3 linked regions of the Homo sapiens genome follow. The protein of the gene in region 1 interacts with the protein of each later gene in a biochemical or structural test. Each region holds a gene or a part of one and is shown in the gene's direction. Other genes may lie near its edges.

What was found.
Region 2: the proteins of PRKAR2A (region 1) and RAB32 interact in a test that uses a peptide from one of them, tested with the Homo sapiens proteins (2 studies listed by BioGRID, with this or other methods).
Region 3: the proteins of PRKAR2A (region 1) and PALM2AKAP2 form a complex in vitro, tested with the Homo sapiens proteins (2 studies listed by BioGRID, with this or other methods).

Annotation. Positions count from the first base shown.
Region 1 is NC_000003.12:48,844,875-48,852,496, reverse strand, and holds the start of PRKAR2A (cAMP-dependent protein kinase type II-alpha regulatory subunit), read left to right. Parts: upstream 1-4,622; 5' UTR 4,623-4,900; coding exon 4,901-5,162; intron 5,163-7,622. UniProt on the Homo sapiens protein: Regulatory subunit of the cAMP-dependent protein kinases involved in cAMP signaling in cells. Type II regulatory chains mediate membrane association by binding to anchoring proteins, including the MAP2 kinase.
Region 2 is NC_000006.12:146,538,836-146,546,847, forward strand, and holds the start of RAB32 (ras-related protein Rab-32), read left to right. Parts: upstream 1-4,997; 5' UTR 4,998-5,036; coding exon 5,037-5,286; intron 5,287-8,012. UniProt on the Homo sapiens protein: The small GTPases Rab are key regulators of intracellular membrane trafficking, from the formation of transport vesicles to their fusion with membranes.
Region 3 is NC_000009.12:109,775,747-109,783,212, forward strand, and holds the start of PALM2AKAP2 (PALM2-AKAP2 protein isoform 3 (PALM2-AKAP2)), read left to right. Parts: upstream 1-4,451; 5' UTR 4,452-4,741; coding exon of another isoform or gene 4,742-4,742; coding exon 4,743-4,787; intron 4,788-7,466. UniProt on the Homo sapiens protein: Binds to regulatory subunit (RII) of protein kinase A. May be involved in establishing polarity in signaling systems or in integrating PKA-RII isoforms with downstream effectors to capture, amplify and focus diffuse, trans-cellular signals carried by cAMP.

The DNA of each region.
Region 1 (7,622 bases):
CGTGGCCTGGGAGCTAACTGCTCCCTGGAGCATGGGCACTTGTTAAAACAGATTAGATTTCCTGGGCAAAAGGCAATGGCCTCGCTGGAGGAGCCACAGTAGAGGCTGAAAGACAGCTTGGGTAAGGGCCGAGAAAACATAGCCCACTTCCTCAATCTCTCTTGCCAACTAAAGGCTCATGAACACTTCTAAGGCAACATAGAAGCTGTTGCTTGTAGGAACTAAGTGAGCTGGGAGTACTAAATCCAGGAGGGCCTGGCATGTAGAGGTGGTCAGGTGACCAGCGGATCCCAGGAAATGGGTGGGGGACTGGAATGGCTTAGAAAAGTGGTCCCTTGATCAAGTAAGAGGGAGGTTTTCCTGCTGGACCTGAGTCCTGCAAGTATGCAGAGGGCATAAGGTATTTAAGCTGGAGGATCTGAGCCAAGAGCAGGCCTTCAGAGGAGTTCGGGGAAGTTTAGGCCCCTCTCTTCATCTTGGAGAGACAGACAGAAACGTTTGAATAACAAACCTATCAAGAGCACACAAAATTCATTGTTTCATTGGAAACAGCAATGGTACCCTACCCATTTTCGTTTTCACCAAGACCCGTTGCTTTTGGGCTAAACAACATGTGTCCCACCTGTGCTACTCTGCATCCATAGTTGCAAACATCTCTGCAAATTGGCCCCATTGTGTCCATATCTGTGCCTCTGGTTGGTGATATGGCAGTTTGTGCAAGACGTTGACTGCCTGCTGAGTTGTGAGTAGGATTAGATTTGAGTGTAGCACCCTCAGGGTTCTGGGGCCTCCTCCTGTGTACTTCTCTTCCTTCTAAGAGTCTCTGCTGTTGGCCTTTTCCACCATCAGTTGCTCTTGGCAGCTGTATCTCAGTTACCGGCTGCCTCTGGGTTTAGTTGCCATGGTAACCTCCAGTGGTGCAGCTGGACAGGCTTGAATGCAGGCAGGATAAATGCAGGATAAGGGTAGAAGATGCGGGGTTCAGGCTCCTGGTGTTCTGTCCTGTTACAGGGCCCTCTTCTTTAGCCAGTTCAACTAGATATTCATGAAGACCCTGGGGGCTCTACTTGTTACTGAAGGGTTGACCAGAAGTGGGAGAGATGCACCCCTGCTCTGGGGACCAAGTGCTGGGGGAGAGTGCCAGGTTAAACCTGGAGGCTGGCTGCCCATCCTTGCTCTAAGACTAGTCTATGGAGACCCATGAGGAGCAGCTGTAGGACTCCTGCTTTCTGTGGCTATATGGCAGACACACCTGTGTATGGTAGCTGCACCTGACAGCAATAACTTAAGCATACTCTGAGAATGACCCTGTATGGCAGATGCACCTGAATGTGTTAGGAGTTCCAAGTGAGGACAAGCCAGAGATTCATTACTTACCCATGAGGAATATCTGAGCCCCCATTCTGTCCTGTGGATGTACAGGGGATTTAGCCCCTTTGTTTTGGGTTAAATCAAAGTTGTTAGGGGGAGGGTGTTAAGTGAAAATGCTATATATACTGCATACTTTCTGCAGGTGGGGCAGTTCTCCTATCTAGCCCACCTCCACTGGACTGCTCTGTATGCAAATTCCCCTCAATCAAACCTAAGTCTTGTTTGCTGGCTCTGGATCTCTTTTGGCCTCTCAAACCTGGTGCCATCCCTACTGAAGTTAATGGGGGTCTGGTGGCCAGGTGCGATGGCTCACACCTATAATTCCAGCACTTTGGAAGGCTGAGGCGGGTGGATCGCCTGAGGTCAGGAGTTCGTGACCAGTCTGGCCCTGTCTGTACTAAAAATACAAAAATTAGCCAGGCGTGGTGGTGTGCGCCTGTAGTCCCAGCTACTCGGGAGGCTGAGGCAGGAGAATGGCTTGAACCCAGGAGGTGGAGGTTGCAGTGAGCAGAGATTGCGCCACTGCACTCCAGCCTGAGCGACAGAGCAAGACTCCATCTCAAAAAAGAAAACAAAACAAAATATGGGTCTTTCTTGGCCGGGCGTGGTGACTCATGCTGGTAATCCCAGCATTTTGGGAAGCTGAGGCAGGCGGATCACCTGAGGTCAGGAGTTCAAGACCAGCCTGGCCAATATGGTGAAACCCCATCTGCACTAAAAATACAAAAAATAAGCCGGGCGTGGTGGTGCGCACCTATAATCCCAGCTACTTGGGAGGCTGAGACACGAGAATCGCTTGAACCTGGGAGGTGGAGGTTGCAGTGAGCCGAGATCGCGTCACTGCACTCCAGCCTGGGCAACAGAGTAAGACTGTGTCTCAAAAAAACAAACAGGCCAGGCGTGGTGGCTCACGCCTGTAATCCCAGCACTTTGGGAGGCCAAGGCAGGCGGATCATGAGGTCAGGAAATCCAGACCATCCTGGCTAACATGGTGAAACCCCGTCTCTACTAAAAAATACAAAAAATTAGCTGGGCATGGTGGCGCACGCCTGTAGTCCCAGCTACTCTGGAGGCTGAGGCAGGAGAATGGCATGAACCCGGGAGGTGGAGCTTGCAATGGGCCGAGATCATGCCACTGCACTCCAGCCTGGGCAACAGAGCAAGACTCCATCTCAAAAACAAACCCAAACAAACAAAATGGCCAGGTGCAGTGCCTCACGCCTGTAATCCCAGAACTTTGGGAGGCTAAGGCGGGCAGATCCCTAGGTCAGGAGTTCGAGACCATCCTGGCCAACATGGCAAAACCCCGTCTCTACTGAAAATACAAAAATTAACTGGGCATGGTGGCAGGTGCCTATAATCCCAGCTACACAGGAGGCTGATGCAGGAGAATTGCTTGAACCTGGGAGGTGGAGGTTGCAGTGAGCTGAGATCGTGCCATTGCACTCCACCTTGGGCGACAAAAGGAAGACTCCATCTAAAAGAAAAAAAAAAAGCCAGGTGCGGTGGCTCACGCCTGTAATCCCAGCACTTTGGGAGGCTGAGGCGGGTGGATCACGAGGTCAAGAGATTGAGACCATCCTGGCCAACATGGAGAAACCCCATCTCTACTAAAAATAGAAAAAATTTGCTGGGTGTGGTGGTGCACGCCTGTAGTACCAGCTACTTGGGAGGCTGAGACAGGAGAATCGCTTGAACCTGGGAGGCAGAGCTTGCAGTGAGCAGAGGTCATGCCATTGCACTCCAGCCTGGGCGACAGAGTGAGACTCCTCTCAAAAAAAAATAGGGGCCTGGCAGAACGGTCGCCCTCATTCCTTCCAGATGCCTTTTGAATGCTCTGCTGGATGGGTGGTTGGCTGAGCCGTGGGGCATCTGAGAACAAGTCAGTAGACCTTCTCCAAGAGTATGCAATAAGGACTGAGCAGGAAAAAAGTTGGAGACTGCCTGTCCCCTCACAAAGTTGATGGTCTAACATTCTTCTCAGGGTCAAGAAACTTGTCCAGGGAGACACTGCTGTTTATAATCACAGGCCTGCTTAGCCTAGAACCTGGGCTGGCCTCTTCATCAGTGGGGATGAGGGCTCCTTGCTCCCAGCTGCTCAGCTCCCAGCAGCATTGAGCTCCTGGGTGTGTGCCAAGCCTGTATGGGAGGTGATAGGGAGGATTTTAATTAATACTGAGTAATTACCAGGCGGTGTTTAAGCATCCCAAATGCCCTCAGGTTCCCAAACCTACAGCTACTCTCTTCCTGGCTAGGCCTGTAAGGAGAGGGGGACTCTGCTCTATGCCCAGTGGGCCTTTGGTTAGCACGTAGGCTGTAGACTGGACATCCCAGGAAGGTCTCCACCTTTTTCAATACCCTTCCAGTTTGGTAGGAGGAGGAGGGCAATTTGGGAAATAGTCTGGCCTCTACAGTTCACCTATACCATCTTCCCAGGGGCAAAGGATAACAATGCCTGTGGTCTGCTCAACTTCATCAAGCAGTGTTGACCTAGGGCCCAGTGTAGAATGTGGGGAGAGGAATGGGCAGACCTAGATCTGGGGACCCTGGTGAAAGTGCTCCAGGAGGAACAGGCACAGAGGTCTTTGCTGCTTTTGGCCTTATTTCCCTTTCTCACTGTACACATTTGGCTGAGTGAACTCTTTCAAATTTATTTTTCTGTCTGTGGCTCTCAAATTATGATCTCATTCAAACGCCTACTTCCTACAAGGCCTTACCCGTTTGACATCTCAGAGACCTGACAGACTCCTGAGTTATTCCACCATTCCACCTGGCAGCCAAGGTGGTCTTGACTCCACCAGGCCTTTGCTCTTGTTGTATGTTCAGATGGCTTTCCTCCAGATCTTCCCCTGGGCGGGTCCTGCTCAGGCCTCGGGGCTAGCTTGAATGTCACGCCGGAAAGTGAGCCCTCTCTTGCCCTTCATCACAGCAGAATCACACTGATGTGCTCGTATGCTTCTGCTTCTCGCTGTGTCTCTGGTGCTTAGTAAGTGCTGGCCAAAAAGAGGCTCTTGGCATCAGCTGAAAGAATAATTTAAAGGTCTTCAGGACCAGGCGAGAGGCACTAATCGGTCCCCTTCATGGGTAGACCGTTCATTACCTAATTCCCTGGATTCCCTCCGTGAGCTGGCATCAGGAACACTCCACTGTCTCGACCCCCCGACAGCCCGAGGGGGCGGGTCATCTAGTGGCGCAAGCGCACTGAGGGCCGGTGCTAAGCGGGGACGCGCACGCCCGCGGTGGCGTGCGTCACAACCAGGACGCCTGCCCCGCCCGTCCAGCTCGCCTGCCCGTCGGTCCCCGCGGCGGCGGCGGCTGCCCAGTGACAGCGGCGGCGGTGCCAGGTCGGCCGTGGTAGCGTAGGGTTGCGCGGCCCGGAAACGCAGAGCCGGCCAAAGAGCGGCGCGACGTGAGCCGGGGCCGTGCGCGAAGAGACCTCGCGGGCGCGGAGCGAAAGGCCGGCGTGAGTGAGCGCGGAGACAGTGGCCGCCGGCGGCCCAACCCGTCTATCCCTTCGGCCGCCGCCGGCATGAGCCACATCCAGATCCCGCCGGGGCTCACGGAGCTGCTGCAGGGCTACACGGTGGAGGTGCTGCGACAGCAGCCGCCTGACCTCGTCGAATTCGCAGTGGAGTACTTCACCCGCCTGCGCGAGGCCCGCGCCCCAGCCTCAGTCCTGCCCGCCGCCACCCCACGCCAGAGCCTGGGCCACCCCCCGCCAGAACCCGGCCCGGACCGTGTCGCCGACGCCAAAGGGGACAGCGAGTCGGAGGAGGACGAGGACTTGGAAGGTAGGCTGTGGGCGGGGCCCTGGGGAGTGGTGCAGGAGGTCTCCAGAGGTCTAGAGGGGTGGCAGGGAGCCAGGTGTCGCGCCGCAGCCAAGCCGACCGCAGGCTGGGATTGGGAGCTCTGTAGCCGCGTTTCTAGCGTTTCCCTGAGACACCGGCGTGAGCCCGCGTGCGCCACTTCCAAATTGAGCTCCGCGATCCTGCGAGCCCTAGAGCGCACCGAGTGATTTGTCAGATCCAGCCTTGAAGGAAACGTGCGCGCTGTCGGCCCTGCTAGAGGATCCCTCGCCTTTGCTTAAGACCCTTCACCAGTTTTGGCTTCGAAGACAACAGCGTTCTCATCCAGTGACTTGTGTTTAATTGATAGGACAGTAAGTTTGTTTGGAAATAATAATTTTTTTTGAAAAGTTACTGTGAAAACTTTTAAGCATAGACAAAAGAGGAAAGGTGAGATGAATCCCTATATGCCATCACCTACATTTAACAGTTGCGTTTGTCACAAAGTTTCATCCATACCTTTTTTCTTTCTTTGCCGAAGTGTATTAAAGCAAATCTCTCAGGTCATTTCACCTCTGCTTACTTGAGTTTGTATTTCTTCAAACATGGTCCCTGGGAATATTCCTATTTTTAAAAACTTGGCCAAAACGATTGAATCAAATTTGGTGAGAGTAAATAATTATCTTGCCGGCCGGGGCAGTGGGCCCCTATAGTCTATACCAGCTACTCTGGAGGCTGAGGAGGAAATATCGCTTGAATCCAAGAGTTCGAGACCAGCCTGGGCAAAATAGACACCCTACCTCATTTTTGAAAACGAAAAACCTGGCCGGGCGTGGTGGGTCACGCCTGTAGTCCCAGCACTTTGGGAGGCCGAGGCGGGTGGATCACCTGAGGTCAGGAGTTCGAGACCAGCCTGGCCAACATGGCGAAACCCCGTCTCTACTAAAAATACAAAAATTAGCCGGGCGTGGTGGCGGGCGTCTGTAGTCCCAGCTACTTGGGAGGCTGAGGCAGGGAGAATCGCTTGAACCTGGGAGGCGGAGGTTGCAGTGAGCCAAGATCATGCCACTGCACTCCAGCCTGGGCGACAGAGCGAACTCCGTCTCAAAAAAAAAAAAAAAGAAAAAGGAAAAACCCAGTAACTATATTCTTGTTTAGTGGGTGGGTTGTAGCTTTAAAGGAAAGGATCCCAGCAGAGACTGAGATCAGGAGAGCAGCTTCATTGGCTCTACTTGCTGTGTCAGGATTTATCATTTAGTAATAGTAAACCTTCTCCAAGAGTTTGCAATAAACTCCAAGAGTACGCAATAAGGACCGAGCAGGAAACAAGTTGGAGACTGTCCCTCCCCTCACAGATTTGGTGATCCAAGATCATCACACCTTTTTTTTTTTTTAAAGTCAGGATCTCGCTCTGTCACCCAGGCTGGGGTGTAGTGGCACAATCAGGGCTCACTGCAACCCCAACCTCACAAGCTCAAGGTATCCTCCCACCTGGGCCTCCCAAGTAGCTGGGACTAAGGGCATGTGCCACCATGCCTTACTAATTTTAAGTGTTTTATAGAGACGGGGTCTCCCTGTGTTGCCCAGGCTGGTCTTGAACTCCTGGCCTCAAGTAATGCTCCTGCCTTGGCCTCCCAAAGTGCTAGGATTACAGGCATGAGCTACTGCTCCTGTCCAAAATAACACTTTCTACATCTGATCTACGCAAGAGTGTTAAGAAGCTATTACAGTTTCCTTGGTTGCTTCAACATATGCTTTGTCAATTTAACAGTAGAATTGGCCTACTTTTGAACAACTAAAATTTAACAAAACAATGAAACCATTTGAGAGGCCAAGTTAGGATCTTAGTGTTATTAGATCACACACACACAAAACTAGTTCTGAGTTGTATCTGGTCTGGCCCAGTATTCAAGTCACGGCAGGGAAGGAGTTAATTAACGGTCATTGCTGTGGGAGGTCACAAGCTTCAGTGCACTGGGCAATCTCCCTAAGTGTATTCATGCTAAAGGAGTAACAAGGGCTCTTCTGGGTTTCCCTTGATTTATTGCACATTACATCATGGGTTTTTGGGAAATCAGAAATTATTTTCTAAACTCTGCCACAGGTTTGCTTTGTGGTCTTGGACAAATTCTCAAACCTGTTTGATCTCAGATTTTCTTATCTTTAAGTTGAGGACAGTGACAACAATCTTCCAGGGACAAATTTGTTTTTAAAAGCTTTATTTCAGGTTTGTTTCACTGTCATCTCTGTAAATCACAAAGCAGTAACCTGCTTTGAGACAATTTTTATTTACACAACACTTTAGGATTTTAGAAATTAGCCTCAGATGAGTAAAAGTTTACAAGTTTTTTTTCTTTTTTATTATACTTTAAGTTTTAGGGTACATGTGCACAATGTGCAGGTTAGTTACATATGTATACATGTGCCATGCTGGTGTGCTGCACCCATTAACTCGTCATTTAGCAT
Region 2 (8,012 bases), on another chromosome or scaffold:
GGATGAGGACAGTTTATTTGAGAGCCTGGGATGGGGTAATGGTTTGGAACATTCTAGATAAAAGGCATAGCAAATGCTGAAACATAATAAATGTGTAGGGGAACATCACAGGGTGACTTTCTGAGTGGGCTATTTTTTTATGTAGTAAATGGAAATGTCTGTTTAAAATAAAGGCAGTCGTATTTATTCAGTGACAAGTCTCAGATTACCTGTATTATGTTCTCTTTATTTCATGTGTGGAAAGAAAACTTGTTTTCCTCTAAAATGTCAGTTCAGGATTCTAACACTTATCCATTCTCCCCCAACCTTCTCCAGTTCAGGGCTGTACACGCAGATATTGTCCAACACTTACTTACAGTACTTGGTATTATGTATGTCTGGTTTCTTTAGTGTGTGCATCATGCTTATCTAGGTTTGTTTGTGTTTTAATACAGATTCCTGGGATCCCCTTCTAAAACATTAAAACAGAAGGTCGGGGCTAATTAACTAGCTAGCTCCCTAGGTAAGTCAGATACACAGCAAATGTGGGAACTACTGAATTCTAATCTGAACCCGTGTGTATTAGTCAGGGTTCTCTAGAGGGACAGGACTAATAGGATAGATGTATATATAAAGGGGAGTTTATTAAGGAGTATTCATTCACAAGATCACAAGGTGAAGTCCCACAGTAGGCCATCTGCAAGATGAAGAACAAGGAAGCCAGTCTGAGTCCTTGAACCTCAAAAGTAGGGAAGCCAACAGTGCAGCTGCCAATCTGTGGCTGAAGGCCTAAGAGCCCCTGGCAAACCACTGGTGTAAGTCCAAGAGTCCAAAAGCTGAAGAACTTGGAGTCTGATGTTCAAGGGCAGGAAGTATCCAGCACAGGAGAAAGATGAACACTGGAAGACTAGTCCGTCCACATTCCTCTGCCTGCTTTAATTCTAGCCACACTGGCAGCTGAATAGATGGTGCCCACCAAGGTTGAGGGTGGGTCTTCCTCTCCCAGTCCACTGACACAAGTGTTAATCTCCTTTGGCAACACCCTCACAGACACACCCATGAACAATACTTTGCATCCTTCAATCCAATCAAGTTGACATTAAATATTAACCATCACACCTTGCTAACAAAAGTGTGGTCTACCAACAGCATTGACATCACCTAGAAACTTGTTAGAAATTTTGAATTTCAGGTTCCATCCCAGATATGCTGAATCAGAATTTAAACTTTTCTAAGATCCTACATAATTTATGTGAACTTTAATAATTGTATTGTAGTAAGAACACAACATAAAATTTACTTTCTTAAATGTTTAAGTGTGCAAGACTATTGTTAACTGTAGGCACAATGTGGTGCAGCAGATCTCTAGAACTTATTCATCTTGCATAATTGAAATTAGCAATTTCCCTTTTCTCCCTGACTCCAGACCCTGAAAACCACCATTCTCCTTCCTGATTTTCTGAGTTTGGCTATTTTAGATACCTTATATAAGTGGATTCATGCAGAATTCTTCCTATTGTGACTGGCTTATTTCACTCGGCATAACGTCTTTGAGGTTCATCCATGTTGTTGCATATTGTGGAAATTCCTTATTTTTAAGGTGGAATAATATTCCATTATATAAGGATGGCTATTATATTTTTTAAAAGACAACAAGTGTTGGTAGAGATGCAGAGAAAATTGAACGCTTGTATACTGGTGATGAGAATGCAAAATGGTGCAGCCACTATAGAAAATAATATGGAGATTTCTCAAAAAATTAAAAATGGAACCACCATATGATCCAGCAATCCCACTTCCAGGTATTTCTCCAAAAGAATGAAAATCAGAATCTTGAAGAGATATTAGCACCCAAATGTTCAATACAGCACAATTGACAATAGTCAAAGTGTGGAAGCAATCTCAATATCTACGGAAGGATAAATGGATTTAAAAAAAAGTGGTATGTATTACTAGATACATAAGAACTTTTAAGTTCGAGAAGCAAATTCTGATCCAAACCACTGTGCTCCTAGACACTTAGCAGCAACATCTCCTGGGAACTTGTTAGAAATGCAAATTATTTGCCTCACCCTAGATCTGAATCAGAACCCCTCTGTTTTAACAAACCCAGAACTCTCAAGTTTGAAAACCACTCATCTAAACTCTTATCCTGTCTTTGAATCGTTGATCCACAACTTTATCCTGCCTTTAGCAGTGACCTTTTCTAATTTTAAGCACCACCACAATTCTACCTCTAAAGTCAGTGGAAATTCAGCAGGGCTAGAGAAGGACGAATAAAAAAAAACATCTATGGTATTACATACGTACGGAACAAAATGCTGCACTTTGTCCAAAAATTGGAGGATTTCCTTTTTTTCCCAAACTGTACATGGGTTTGGAAGGGCTCTCTAATTGGGTGAACATAAAAGCCATGTACTGGTTGGCTGTACTTCCACATCTGTGGTTTTTCAATAGCTATTCTAGAAAAAGGTTTTACTCCCACCTTGACTTCTAAATTTTAAAACGCCTCCATCTCTGAAAAACACTTTTCAATAATTGTCAATTAGAGTGAGGATAGTAGGGTAAGCAGCTGCTTTAGTTTATTTAAGGAAGCTGCCAGATGATGTCAGCTCCAGGTGTTTCTAAATATTAAGGTGATGGGGTGCATCCCTCAACTTTATAGATAGAGAAAGCAAGGGGCTGTCCCCCATGTTTCTTCTTTAAAATAAAAACCCACAAGTCTACTACTTTCCAATCAATTTCCTATGATTTATCTTAGAGCATTTACATCTAATCCAAACACTACCAGATGAAGGTTGAAAAAGGATTGTTAGGGAAGTAAAGTAAGATGGCTTCAGAGTCCCTGTGTCTTCTTTCTCAAACTCCTTCCATAATTTAAATGCTAAAGCATGATAAGGTTTTTAATAGACTATTTTGTTGTGTGTGTGTGTATATATATATATATCTATATCTAAGGTATACGGCATGATGCTTTGATATACATAGTGAAATAGTTACTAGAGTTAAGCAAATTAACAAATTAACATGTCCATCATCTCACATAGTTACACAATTTTTTCTTTTCATTTTTTCTTTTCTTTTTTTTTTTTTTTTTTTTTGAGATGGTCTCACTCTGTCGCCCAGGTGGAATACAGTGGTGCGATTAAGCTCACTGAAGCCTGGACCTCCCAGGCTCAGGTAGTCGTCCCACCTCAGTCTTCTGGGTAGCTGGGACTACAGGTGGGTGCCACCACACCTGGCTGCAATTTTTTTTTAATGGTAACAGCACTTACAGTCTACTCTCTTAGCAAATTTCCAGTTTAAAATACAATATTATTAACTATAACGCTCATGCTACATTAGATCATTAGGACTCATTCATCCTATATAACTGCAACTTTGTACACTTTGACCTGCATCATTCCGTTTCTTCCCTGCCCCTGGTAACCACCACTGTTTCCACGTATTCCGTGTGTGTGTGTGTGTGTGTGTGTGTGTTTAAGATTCCACATATAAGTGATATTGCACAGTATCTTTCTTTTTGTGTCTGGCTTATTTCGCTTAGCATAATGTCCTCCAGGTTTATCCATGTTGTTGCAAATGTCAGGATCGCCTTCTAAAGGCTGAATGATATTCCATTGTGTGTGTGTGTGCGTCTGTGTATATGCGCGCGTGCATGCCTATGTATGTATTACAATTTCTTTATCCATTCATCGTTAACAGACACTTTGGTTGTTTCCAAATCTTCGCAACTGTGAATAATGCTGCATGAACTTGAGAGCGATTTCTGAGATCCTGATTTCATTTCCTTTGAGTATACACCCAGAAGAGGGATAGCTGGGTCACTGGCTTTAGCAACGATTTTTGCAATATCACACCAAAAGCCCAGGCAACCAAAGCAAACCTAGATAAATGGGACTTCATCCAACTAAAATGCTTCTGCACCGCATAGGAAATAATCAACAAAATGAAAAAACAGCCTATAGATTGGGAGAAAATATTTGTGAGCCATATATCTGATAAGGGGTTAATATCCAAAATACATTACGTTCACAGAACTCAGCCAAAATAAATAAATAAAACACCCAGTTAACTAACGGGCAAAGGATGTGAATGGACTTTTTTTTTTTTTCCAGAGGAAGTACAAATTGCCAACAGGTATAAGAAAAGGCGCTCAAAATCACTAATGAACAGGGAAAAGCCACTAGGTATCTCCTCACACCTGCTAGGATGACTGTTATAAAAAAGATAAGCGATAATAAGTGTCGGTGATGTGCGGAGCAAAGGGAACCTTGTACACTGGTGGTGGGAATGCGGACTGGAACAGCCATTATGGAAAACCCTACGGAGGTTCACTCAAAAAGTTAAAAACAGAACTACCAGCCCAGTGTTATCCGTCCTTCGTTAAGTTCAAAGTCACGGTGCCACTTCCTTTCCCATCTAAAGGGGACTGCTCGCGACCCAAGCCAAGGCCCGCAAGTGTGGCTCTCCCTGCGGGGAGAGTAGGGCAGGAGGTGGATTTCCAGGCCAGAGGCTTCCAGGCTGGGCCCGGACCCCACGCCGACCCCGGCCCCGGGGGGGGCTCAGCGACCTCGGCGCCTCCTCAGGCCCCCAGTGAACCTCCGGGGCCCATAAAGGCTCCAGGCCGGCTCCCCGGAGGCCCACCAGCGGGCGTCTGGGCCTCCCTCCGCGCCGCGACCGCCAGGAGGCGCCGCCCGGGAGAGGAAGTCCAGCTGGGCCCGGCCGGGCTTCGGAGGCGCCGCCCGGGAGAGGAAGTCCAGTTGGGCCCGGCCGGGCTTCAGAGGCGCAGGGCGGGAGCCGCCTCGCGCAGGGTCCTCCCCAAGCCGGCGCCAGGCCCTGCCCTCGTCCGGCCCTGCCCTCGTCTGGCCCCGCCCGGGCCGCGAGCACTGGCGGGTTCTGGGTCCTGTGACCGGTCAGGCGGCGTCAGCGGGCGCGGCGGAGGGCTGGCCGGCCTCGGGGGAGTTTCCGCGGCCGCCGGGGGCGCGGCGGCAGAGCGCGAGGCCGGGCAGGGGGCCAGACTCGGAGTCGAGGCGCGCCCGACAGCCGCAGCGCTCATGGCGGGCGGAGGAGCCGGGGACCCCGGCCTGGGGGCGGCCGCCGCCCCAGCGCCCGAGACCCGCGAGCACCTCTTCAAGGTGCTGGTGATCGGCGAGCTTGGCGTGGGCAAGACCAGCATCATCAAGCGCTACGTCCACCAGCTCTTCTCCCAGCACTACCGGGCCACCATCGGGGTGGACTTCGCCCTCAAGGTCCTCAACTGGGACAGCAGGACTCTGGTGCGCCTGCAGCTGTGGGACATCGCGGGTAAGCGCGGCCGCGAGTTTCCCACTCCAGAGCCCCGCCGGGCCGCCTGGCTCCTCTCTGCTTCTTTTCTTTTTCTTTTCTGCCTGAACTCGTCTGCCTGGGTACCTTTAGGAGAAGAGAGAGGCCCAATCCAAGGGCGAGATGCGATGGACGCGGTCGGCTGGACTCGGTGGGGCCCAGAGGATGGGATGGGCAGTAGGAGTTGGAGCAGGTCCTGCACGCCAGAGCTCGCTCTCCTGAAGGGAGGCGAGGAGGCCAGGGGGCCTTTTCCAGAAGTTTGAACTCTGAATAATGCAAGTATATCATACATACACCAGGACTAGTTGAGAAGGCTGCTTTGGAGCGGGCCGGCGCCTCTCAGCCTCAACTCAAGTTCAGAGGGATTGGGTGACTTAACCCGAAGCTGCACTCCTAGTTAGTGACACCACCAAGACCAAAAGCCAGGTTCCTTTCCAGATCATTTTCCACCACCCGCCTTGGCTCTGAGACTGGCCTTTGTGAGGGAAACTCCATTCCTCAAATACTTTGCTCTCATCGGAAGCCGAGGACAGACACTCCGTGAAGATTTGGGAAAGCTTTTCTGAAACCTTACACTCACCCCTTCCTCTCTTGCTAAACCAACACCTAGTCCCATCCCTGGTGCCCTCGCCCCCCCCCGCCCCCCCCCCACTCCTCAATACAGTGTTTCTCTGCCATTTGCTTTCATTTGTTCTGTTTGAGGGGGTACATTTCCCTCTGCTCTGATTTATGAACACTTGAACTTTGCCTGGTGTGGTGGTTGGGAGTGGGCGTTTTAAAGATGATGTTAACTATTGGAAAGTTCATAGAAATGGTACCAAGCCAAGTGCCAGTGGCTCACGCCTGTAATCCCAGCACTTTGGAAGGCCTAGACTGGAGGATCGCATGAGCACAGGAGTTCGAGACCAGCCTGGGCTGTTAGTGAGACCCTGTCTCTACAAAATACATACATACATATATACATACATACATACAAAAAATTAGACAAGTGTGGTCGTGCGTGCCTGTAGTCCCAGCTACTCAGGAGCCTGAGGCAGGAGGATCACTTGACCCTAGGAGAGGTCAAGGCTTCAGTGAGCTGTGTTCTCACTGCTGTACTCCAGCCTGGTCAACAGAGTGAGACCCTATCTCAGAAAAAAAAAAAAAAAGTACGAAAATTACTCTGTTCAATCATTACAGGTGTTAAGAAGCACAGTCTGCAGTACAGCATTAGAATGGGAGCTGGTTTAGGGTTAGAGGACACCTGAGGCCACCCTTCATTCTACAGTCCCTACACTGAAGCCCATGGAGGGTATAGCTACCTGGCTGGTAGCAGAGTGGTTGGGGGGATCACAGGTCTACTGTCTGTCTGCCAGGTAGTGCTCTTGTCATTTATAGCTTGTTACATAAGAAAGAGTAGTAAATAATTGTAACCTATAACTCATTCATTTAAGAGCACATTTCTGTCCCTCAGACAGGAGAATAACTGTATGCAACTCAGTTGCTCAGAAAAAAGGAGTAATCAGCCAGGGACTCAGCTTTTTGTTGTTGTTTTTTGTTACCAAAAACCAAAAGTTCGTTTGAAAAGTCATCTTTGAAGCCAGAAGTTTTTTCGAAACACTTCCTGCCGTTGCACAGAACCCTAATGAGCAGTATTTCTGCTTCTTGACAAAGTCATGGATTCTAAAGGTTGCCTTACCATGTGACGGTCATTCTCCAGGAATCTGCAGCATAGCTGAGGTTTTTCACAAAGATGGTTTTAAAACCTTGCTTACAAGGGTGATTGACCTTGCCTTACTCTTTATGTAAATTATGGCATTTTGTTATTAAACTACGATTGGGTCCCACTGCTGGTAAATCAGTATGAGTAACTAGATTTTTAAGTGTTTATAGTTAGAAACTTGAGAAAGTAAAAGCAGGAGTAAGATACAAATTTTCTTTCTGGTATCACCTCTTCTTTTTTTATTAATCACAGACCTCGAATGACAGGAAGGGGTCATATCTAGTTTTTTATCAGACTCTGATAAACATCTGCCTAGATGGGATATCCTTGTACTTTTCACTAAATCCAAAGCTTGAGTTTTGCCAGGAAGGAAAACAAAAGTTTAAGATCTCCAAAAGGGATTTCTGGATGTTAGATATTGTTTCAACAGGTATTGTTGTCCCATACAGCAAGTACAGACCAGCAATTTACAAAATTAGAGGTAAATTTATAGAAATTATTAGGCTCACATTATAAGTAAGATTTTCAGAGATAGAATTTTAATATCTCTGAATATGAGGGAGAAAAATAGCTTAGTGAGAGACCAAAAACAAAAAAAAAACAAAAAAAACTGTTTTAGAGACCAAAAAAAGCAAAACAAAACAAAAAATCCTTAGCCTAAAGTTTGGAGAGCTACATTACTAACTGTTTGATTTGAATATTTGAGCTACTAGTGAATCTCAGCTCATACCATTTGAATTAAGTAATGATGATGTAATGAAGGCAAACTGATGGCTGCTCCACAAACTTCCCCCAGGGCTAAGCATACTTGCCTTATGTAGTAACAAAGTTGGATCATATTTAATTCTCAAATAATAGAAATATTCTTTGATTGCACAATAGTAGATAGAGCCAGCTACTTGCCATAACTAAGTTAAGGTGTGGTGTTTTTACTAGTTAGGTTTTTTTTTTTTTTTTTTTTTTGGTTGCTTCAGTGAGAGGGCGAGGTAGTGAAGAAATTATGACG
Region 3 (7,466 bases), on another chromosome or scaffold:
GGCCTTGGCAAGTCATTTCCCTTTTGGTATACAGAGCTCTTGTTTTCCCCACAAAGGAATTGGCTATGATCGTTTGTGATTCTCAAAGGACTCATGTTCTAAAATAGATTCTGAAATTTTTATTAACAAAACATCTATTTTGCATATCTAGCATTCTGTATCCTTTTCGTATAATGCTTTGCAATGAAGCATCTATCATAAAAACCACTAAACCGTACAGATGGTGTTTATGCAACACAATTTAATGTCCCAGCAAGAACTAGTGATTTGTTACATACATTATGCATCATTGTGATGTATATATCCAGATTTTAAATGTTTGGAGGGCAAATAGTCACCAATATCATTGTGGCACTAGACTACGATTTTTTTTCTTAATACCAGGCCATGGCCAAACATCTAATATAAAATAATTATACAATATGTTTATTAAATAAATAGCATAGTTTGGGTTTTAAATGCCTGTGTTTGTAATGGGTTCAAAGATTTTAAAATACTAAAATTTAGAAAGTTGAAAGAAGTGCTGGAAGAGGAAAAAAGATTTTCCCTCTGCTCCTTGGCCAACCATCAGGCAGTCATTTCATGTGCCTTCCTGTTTCACCTAGGGTTCTTGGTCCCAAGCAACAGAAATAGATTCTGGCTGATAGGAGCAGAAAAAGAATGAAATGAAATTGTATTAGATAGCTCACAGGAGAGATGGAACGTCCAAAGAAGGAAGCTTGGGCAATGGGTACAACCAAAGGTGAACTAATAGCCTGAAGGAATTCTCTAACATGCTCAGTCTCCAAAATTCTTGGCAGGCACACATGCCTGACTGAGCCGAGATTGCCTGCCATACCATGGCTTCAGGGGGATCTGGGGAACAAGTGTCTGATACCTCCCAGCTTCTACCACAGGATGTGGCTCTGCCTCTCACTATGGCTTTTAATATGGGAAATCCCCAAAGATGGGAAGGAGTTCACAAATTGGCCAGCCAGAGGAAAAAAAAATGTGTATATGAACAAGTCTGTTACACTTCCTACCTGGCCAGAAGCATTTTGAATTTCCTCTCTTCTTTGGCTTTTTGTCTTACCTGCTTTGATAATCCGCAACACTGAATAAACACAAGCTTTTTTTATTGTGGGTCTCAGGGCAGTTAAAAATCACTTAGGAAGTACACACTATTGGTCATGAGTCTTTAGTCTATTCCTAGTAAATTCAATTAGTACAAAGGTTCTAAACCCATCCCTAACTCCCACATCACCCTGTAGAAATTTAATTCTGTACAGGTCTTCAGGAGATTCTGATGCAGATTTCTGATTAGGAACCATGTTTTAGTCTTTCTCATCTTTCACAGTTTCTTTACAAACGATTTCTATTTTTCTGAAGCCCCAACCCTACGCCATCAGTCTTAATCAATGACTCTTTGTTCAATTGGGAAAACCAGTCCATCTGATGCAAATTCACTTAACCTCTCTCCTGAGAGTTGAACTCAAACTTTCTTCTTGTCTTTATCCATTTCTTCCTCCTTCCCTACTTCGTTATTCCTTCTTCCCAAGGCTAACTGGCTAATGTGATGCTCATCTGAATGTCCTCTTGACTAATTAGAGACTTTGACTAATATTCACCTTCCTTTTTGACTGTATCTTTGGCCTAATTTCCCTGTTGTCTAATTTGCTTTGACCCCCAAACATCCAAGTCTTGCCTGACCTAAAAACCCTTTCCACTAGACCCTGCTTCCCATGGGCTATGTTCCTGTTCTCCACCTTCATCTTTCACATCTGAAGAGCTGAAAGAAGCAGTTTGTACTCATGGTTGCTTCTCTGATCTCTCGCTCATCCCCATTTTTGTTTGTTTTATTTTCAACATTCACTTGGTAGCAGTCATTCCTCACCTCTTGTAAGTGCTTCCAAGCTCATCTTCTGGACACAAGTCACTCATGGCTTACTGACAGCCCTCCAATGGTCTCTTCTTCATCTGCATCCCCCATGACCTTTCAGAAGCATATGACCCTGTTGAAAACCTCTTTCCTTCTTTGTGGCTTTTGGTGCAAATCCCTTTGAATTTTTCCTTCTACTTCTCGGATGATACTTTATCAGTCTTCTTTGCTGGGCTCTCTCCTCTTCTTGCTCTGTTTTCTCATCCTGGCTGTTCTCATTTCTTTAGCTGTAACCGCAAAGTAGATGACACTTGGATGTGTGTCCCCAACCCCGATTCTTCTATTCAGAGTTCAGATATTTCCAACTGATCACTTCCAAAGGGTGCCCAGGCCCTTTTCCTTCTCCATCTCCCCATTCCATCACTCCTTTTAAAAATTTATTGCGGTTAAAAATACAAAACTTAAAATTTACCATTTCAACCACTTTTAAGCATATGGTTTGATGACAGTAAGTACATTCACACTGTTGTGCTCAATCATACCTTTTAAATATCTGTATAGCTGGGAGTAGAAGGACCATTTCTGGTTCAATTGTTTATTCCTGGGGCCTGCTTCTATCTCCATATCATTGGCCAAGCCTGGTGCTTAATGGTTAAGAGCATGGGCTCTGGTGAGTGTGATCTGAGTTTAAATCCCAGCTCTATAACTGTAGCTGAGTCTTTCAACCTCTCTGGTCTCATTTTCCTCATCTTAGTATTCTCTACAATCACTCTGCTGAAGCAATAACAGCTTTGTTTATTTGTGAGCAAACCCCTTTAAATAACTTGTCCTGCTGGGGCTTGTGCTGGAAATGAAGAAAAAAGGATGCATTTGAAGAAAAGGATGGGCTTAGCCAGAAAGTAGAAGTTTCTGATATATTGGAGTGGGATGTAGAATCTGGCACTGGCTTGGATTTATTAAACAATCAGCTCCACCTACACTTGTTATGAAAAAGATGGGAAAACAATCCATCAGTAAACGATTTTGGTGAGTGCTTCCATCTTTGGTCAGAGGAGTAATTGTTCATCAGTGACAGGTGAACCTCTGTGAAAATTGAAAGGGCAATTTAGTTGAAATGGAAGCATTTATTCAGGAAACAGGTGATCTGGGAAAATTTGATGTGCATTTTTTTTTTTTTTTTTGAGACAGAGTTTCACTCTTGTTGCCCAGGCTGGAGTGCAATGATGTGATCTCGGCTCACTGCAACCTCTGCCTCCCAGGTTCCAGTGATTCTCCTGCCTCGGCTTCCCAAGTAGCTGGGATTACAGGTGCCTGCCACCACGCCCGGCTAATTTTTTGTATTTTTAGTAGAGAAGGGGTTTCACCATGTTGGCCAGGCTGGTCTCGAACTCCTGACCTTAGGTGATCCACCCGCCTTGGCCTCCCAAAGTGCTGGGATTACAGGTGTGAGCCACCGCATCTGGCCTGATGTGTATATCTTTTAACATGCCTTTAAATCCTATGGCTCTAAAGAGGCCATATTAGTTATTTCAGTGTTTATTTCATTTGATGAAGAAACGTTTGCATATGAATGTTGGGAATTCTAGCAGGTCCTGCCTCAATGTGAAGAGGCATTTTTTTTTGCTTTTGGCATTGATCTCCTTTTGGACTGGGCCTGATCCACTTCTTACATCCAGTCCAGGACCTGTCACAAAAGACTCACATTAGTACCACATGGTATCCTGTTTTAGTAAAGAATAGGTGAAATATTTTAGTGAGTAGATCCTACTTTTCCTTTCAGATGCAATGAACAGAAGACCCTGAAAGGATTTCAATCCAGAATGTCACAGGATAATAAGAGCAGATGTCTGTGATGCCCTTTACAAAGCACCTTTACATACTGTCTCTCATTCGTCTCTAATGACACCTATGTGATCCTCCATTTTTTCAGATGAGGAAACTGAGGTTCAGAGTGATTAAGCGAGTTGCCTGAGATTTCACAGCTAACACATTGTGAAATCTAGTCTAGCACCCAGGACTAAAAACTCTCGGCTTCTTTTAAGGCCACATATCGCCTCACCAGAAGGGTGGCCTCTCTGGAGATATACCCTACCCTCGGCCGACTTGATATTGAGAACTTGGTCATCTTAAGCATGTGGGCCACTTGGGCAAGGCAGCCCTTCCCAAATTGTAAATGTCCCCACGTGGAGCTCAAGCGTCTGGCTTGAGCCAGAAGGTGCCCTGAACACTCGGTGGCCCCAGCCCCCACGTAACAGCACGTGCTCGGGTCCCACATTCGGTCAGACGCCCCTCTCCACTGGCATCTGCCCGGTGGAGGCGCCACTGCGCTCTGCCTCCGCCCCAGCAAGCGCGTGTCCACGCGGGCGCGCCACGCCAGCCGTGCGCCCCAGCGGCTCGCCGTGCGCCCGCGCCCCAGGTGCCCACTGGCTCGCGCGCCCTCCGTCTGCGCCTTGGAGACCCGCGGCGGCGATCGCTCGGAGCCGCCTTGGACCGCGGCCTCGGGTCCATCACACTCCAGGGGCGGAGCGAGGCACCGAGACGTCAGGGCGGAGAACTAGCGCCGGGCTAGCGCGCCCTCCCGGCGGCTGCCGGCGTCCCACGTCCTCGGCTGGCGCGGCCGGCGGCGGCGGCGACCGGGAGATGCAGTGAGCGGCGGCGCTGGGGCGCAGCCAGGCGGCCGGGAGGGCGGGGGCCAGAGGCTGAGCCCGGGCGAGCCCGCCGTGCGCACAGCTCTGCCCGCCGCCCCTGGAGCGGATCCCCAGCCGTCCCTGGGCGTTCTCCCGGGTTCTAGCAAAGCCCCCCGGGGTGCCCATCAGTTTCCTTGGGTGACTACAGCGTGTGTTTTTTCTTTCCTCTTTCCCCTGCCTGTGTGCCCTTCTCCAGGATGGCAGAGGCGGAATTGCACAAGGAAAGGCTGCAAGCCATAGCAGTAAGTCCACTTTCATTTTATTTTCTTGCTCTATTGTCTGGGGTGGAAGGGGGCCCCCGAGGGTTTCGGGGCAAGCGGCATGCCAGCACAGTAGCCGCAGGTCATATGTTCCAGGGGCTAAAACTCTGTCAGGGCTCAGCTAGGCTGCCTTTTCTTTTCTATGTCTATAGATGGAGACCCCCAAGGGCGCGCTTTGGACTGAGGATTTGAATGTGGAAGATTGGCTTAAAAAAAGATGCTTGCTGCTGGGCTTTGGGGAAGGACTAAACAGAGGCTTGGGGTGGGGGGACGACTCCAGGAATATTATGACCGAATGCTCAGGCATACGTTGGCTTCATAGCCTGGAGAACCAAGAGAAGGGTGACCTGAACGGTGGCTGCCATCCTCTCTGCGGAAGCTGTCCTCCTGTTAAGTGGAAAACCAGGAGTCAGCGACTCAGCCAGCCACGCGGTAGAACCTCCTCCCAGAAACCGGGAATGTTAGTTTTCCCTTCTCTGTTTGATATTGACAAGGGCACTGGCACAAGCCACCACCCTGGAGGTCTGGGGACTTCATACAACTGGGTCCTGGTTATAATATTCCATGAGAGCCTCCTTCTTATGGTGTGGAGTATCTGAAAACCTATTTTCAGCCTACAAAGGAGTAGTCAGTTTTGGCAAAGTTCGTAGGCACTTTCAGAAAAGTGTACCCATGTGCATCTTGGGTTTAAAAAAGAACTCTCTGAGACTGCCTAGATTTGAGCAATCTTAACACAGTGTTGCCAATGATCCACAGATGTGGTATTTTTACTGGAGCCACCACAGCTGGATTATATATTTCCTTCGAGGATGAGGGAATGATTACTGCTGCCGTATGAAATAGTAACAATTAAAAAAGAAGGTCCGTTAACATATTGGCATAAAAGAATCTCCAGACATTCTTCCACCTAAATACATTTGTGTTTTTCAGTTCGGAAGTTCTCTGGAAACACATATAAATTTGTTGGAGAAATAGTGTGTAATGTTTTGGAACCAAAGTATATTAAAGCGTTTTCCAAAACCTTTTTGGACAGATTCTTCATTGGGAAAATGCACACAGACCCTTCCTTTTTTAGAAGCATTTGACATGGTCTCCAAGGCTCTGAGACCCTCTTTCTCAAACGCCTCAAATCTGAAATGTCTTGGAGACTTCACCACTGAAGTGAGAGAGATGTTTGCTGGCAATATTGAAATGCCATGGTTTGCCTATTAGGTAATCTTTGAACGTGGTGCTCTGAACTCAGAAAGGTTGTTTTTTTCTTCTTTCTCTTTCCCCCTGTGCATGTGTATTTTGATGGTTTGTGAAGTTATTTGTGGTTTCTAAAGTTGGTGGCAAGGCAGCATGGCCAGTGTGTCATGAACTTGATAAGAATGGTGATATTGAGTTAATGGTGCCATGTAGCTGGTGGGTGTTTTGTGTGAACTGGATAATAGGCTGCTTTAACTGTTGATGCAGTGGCTGTTCCCATTGGCTGCTGCTGAAGGCTTCCAACAGTTGTCACATTTTCTGCCTTTGCACAACCAGCTTTACTGGATGCCTGAGGAACAGCTGAACTCCATGAAAGGACTTGCTTTCCAAACATGGAGCCAGTAGCTGCTAACACTGGGGTACCCTTTTCCAAGTGCGGTTGAGTAATCCCAGCAGAGGCCAAGTCGATTTTCCAAGAAAGATCTAGGCAAATCTTTGGGAATTCTCTTGAGCATATAAGAATACACACAAATACTCACTTGTGCCTCTTCAGTTATTGAAGAATTGAGTTTGTCCTGTGTATCTGGGGAGCTGTTGATTATTCTCATGAATGTGCACCTAATACAGTCTGCCCTCCCTATTCATGGGTTCCATATCCACGCCTTCAGTCAATCTTGGATTGAAACTATTGGAAAAAATAATAGATAGCTGAGTCTGTACTGAACATGTACAGACTTTTTCTTGTCACCATTCCCTAAATAATACAGTATAATCAACTGTTTACGTCGCATTTACAGTGTATTAGGTATTATAAATAATCTGAAAATGATTAATGTATGTGGGAGGATGTGAGTAGGTTATATGCAAATACCATGCTATTTTATAGGGACTTGAGCATCCTTTGATTTTGGTATCCAAGGGGGTCCTGAAACCAATTCTCTGAGGATACTGAGGGATGACTGTATGATGTTGTCAGGACAGATTTGCTAACAGCGTGTGTTTGTTTGTGTGTGTGTGTGTGTGTGTGTGTGTGTGTGTATGTGTGTGTGAGAGAGAGAGCCAATTAAGAGACAGAGGGAGTTGGGTGGGGGGACTTATGGCCACATCGGTAAATGGTTTTATGCTATGCTTTGGTCTAGTGCCTACTCTTCTGAATTCTGCAAACCCTGACTCTCTCATCACTTTCCTGGAGTTCTCAGGGGACCCTGAGGAGATCACAAGCCTGCCCCCAGAACCTAGCACTCCTGAAGTCTCTCTGGAGATGTGAGGGAAGAAGACAATAGGTCCTCACATCTTCACTTACTTGGGCTTCTCTCTCAGAGGCAGAGAATCGACTGGGATTCCAGTCTGCAGGGCCTTGGGCAGTCTTTAGTCTGGGTCTCAGCTCCTTCATCTGTAGAATGGGTTCATGAGTTCTACCTCCTGGGCTGGTTGTAAGGTTTAGTTAGGATGGAGGTGAAGCACCTGGCAGGT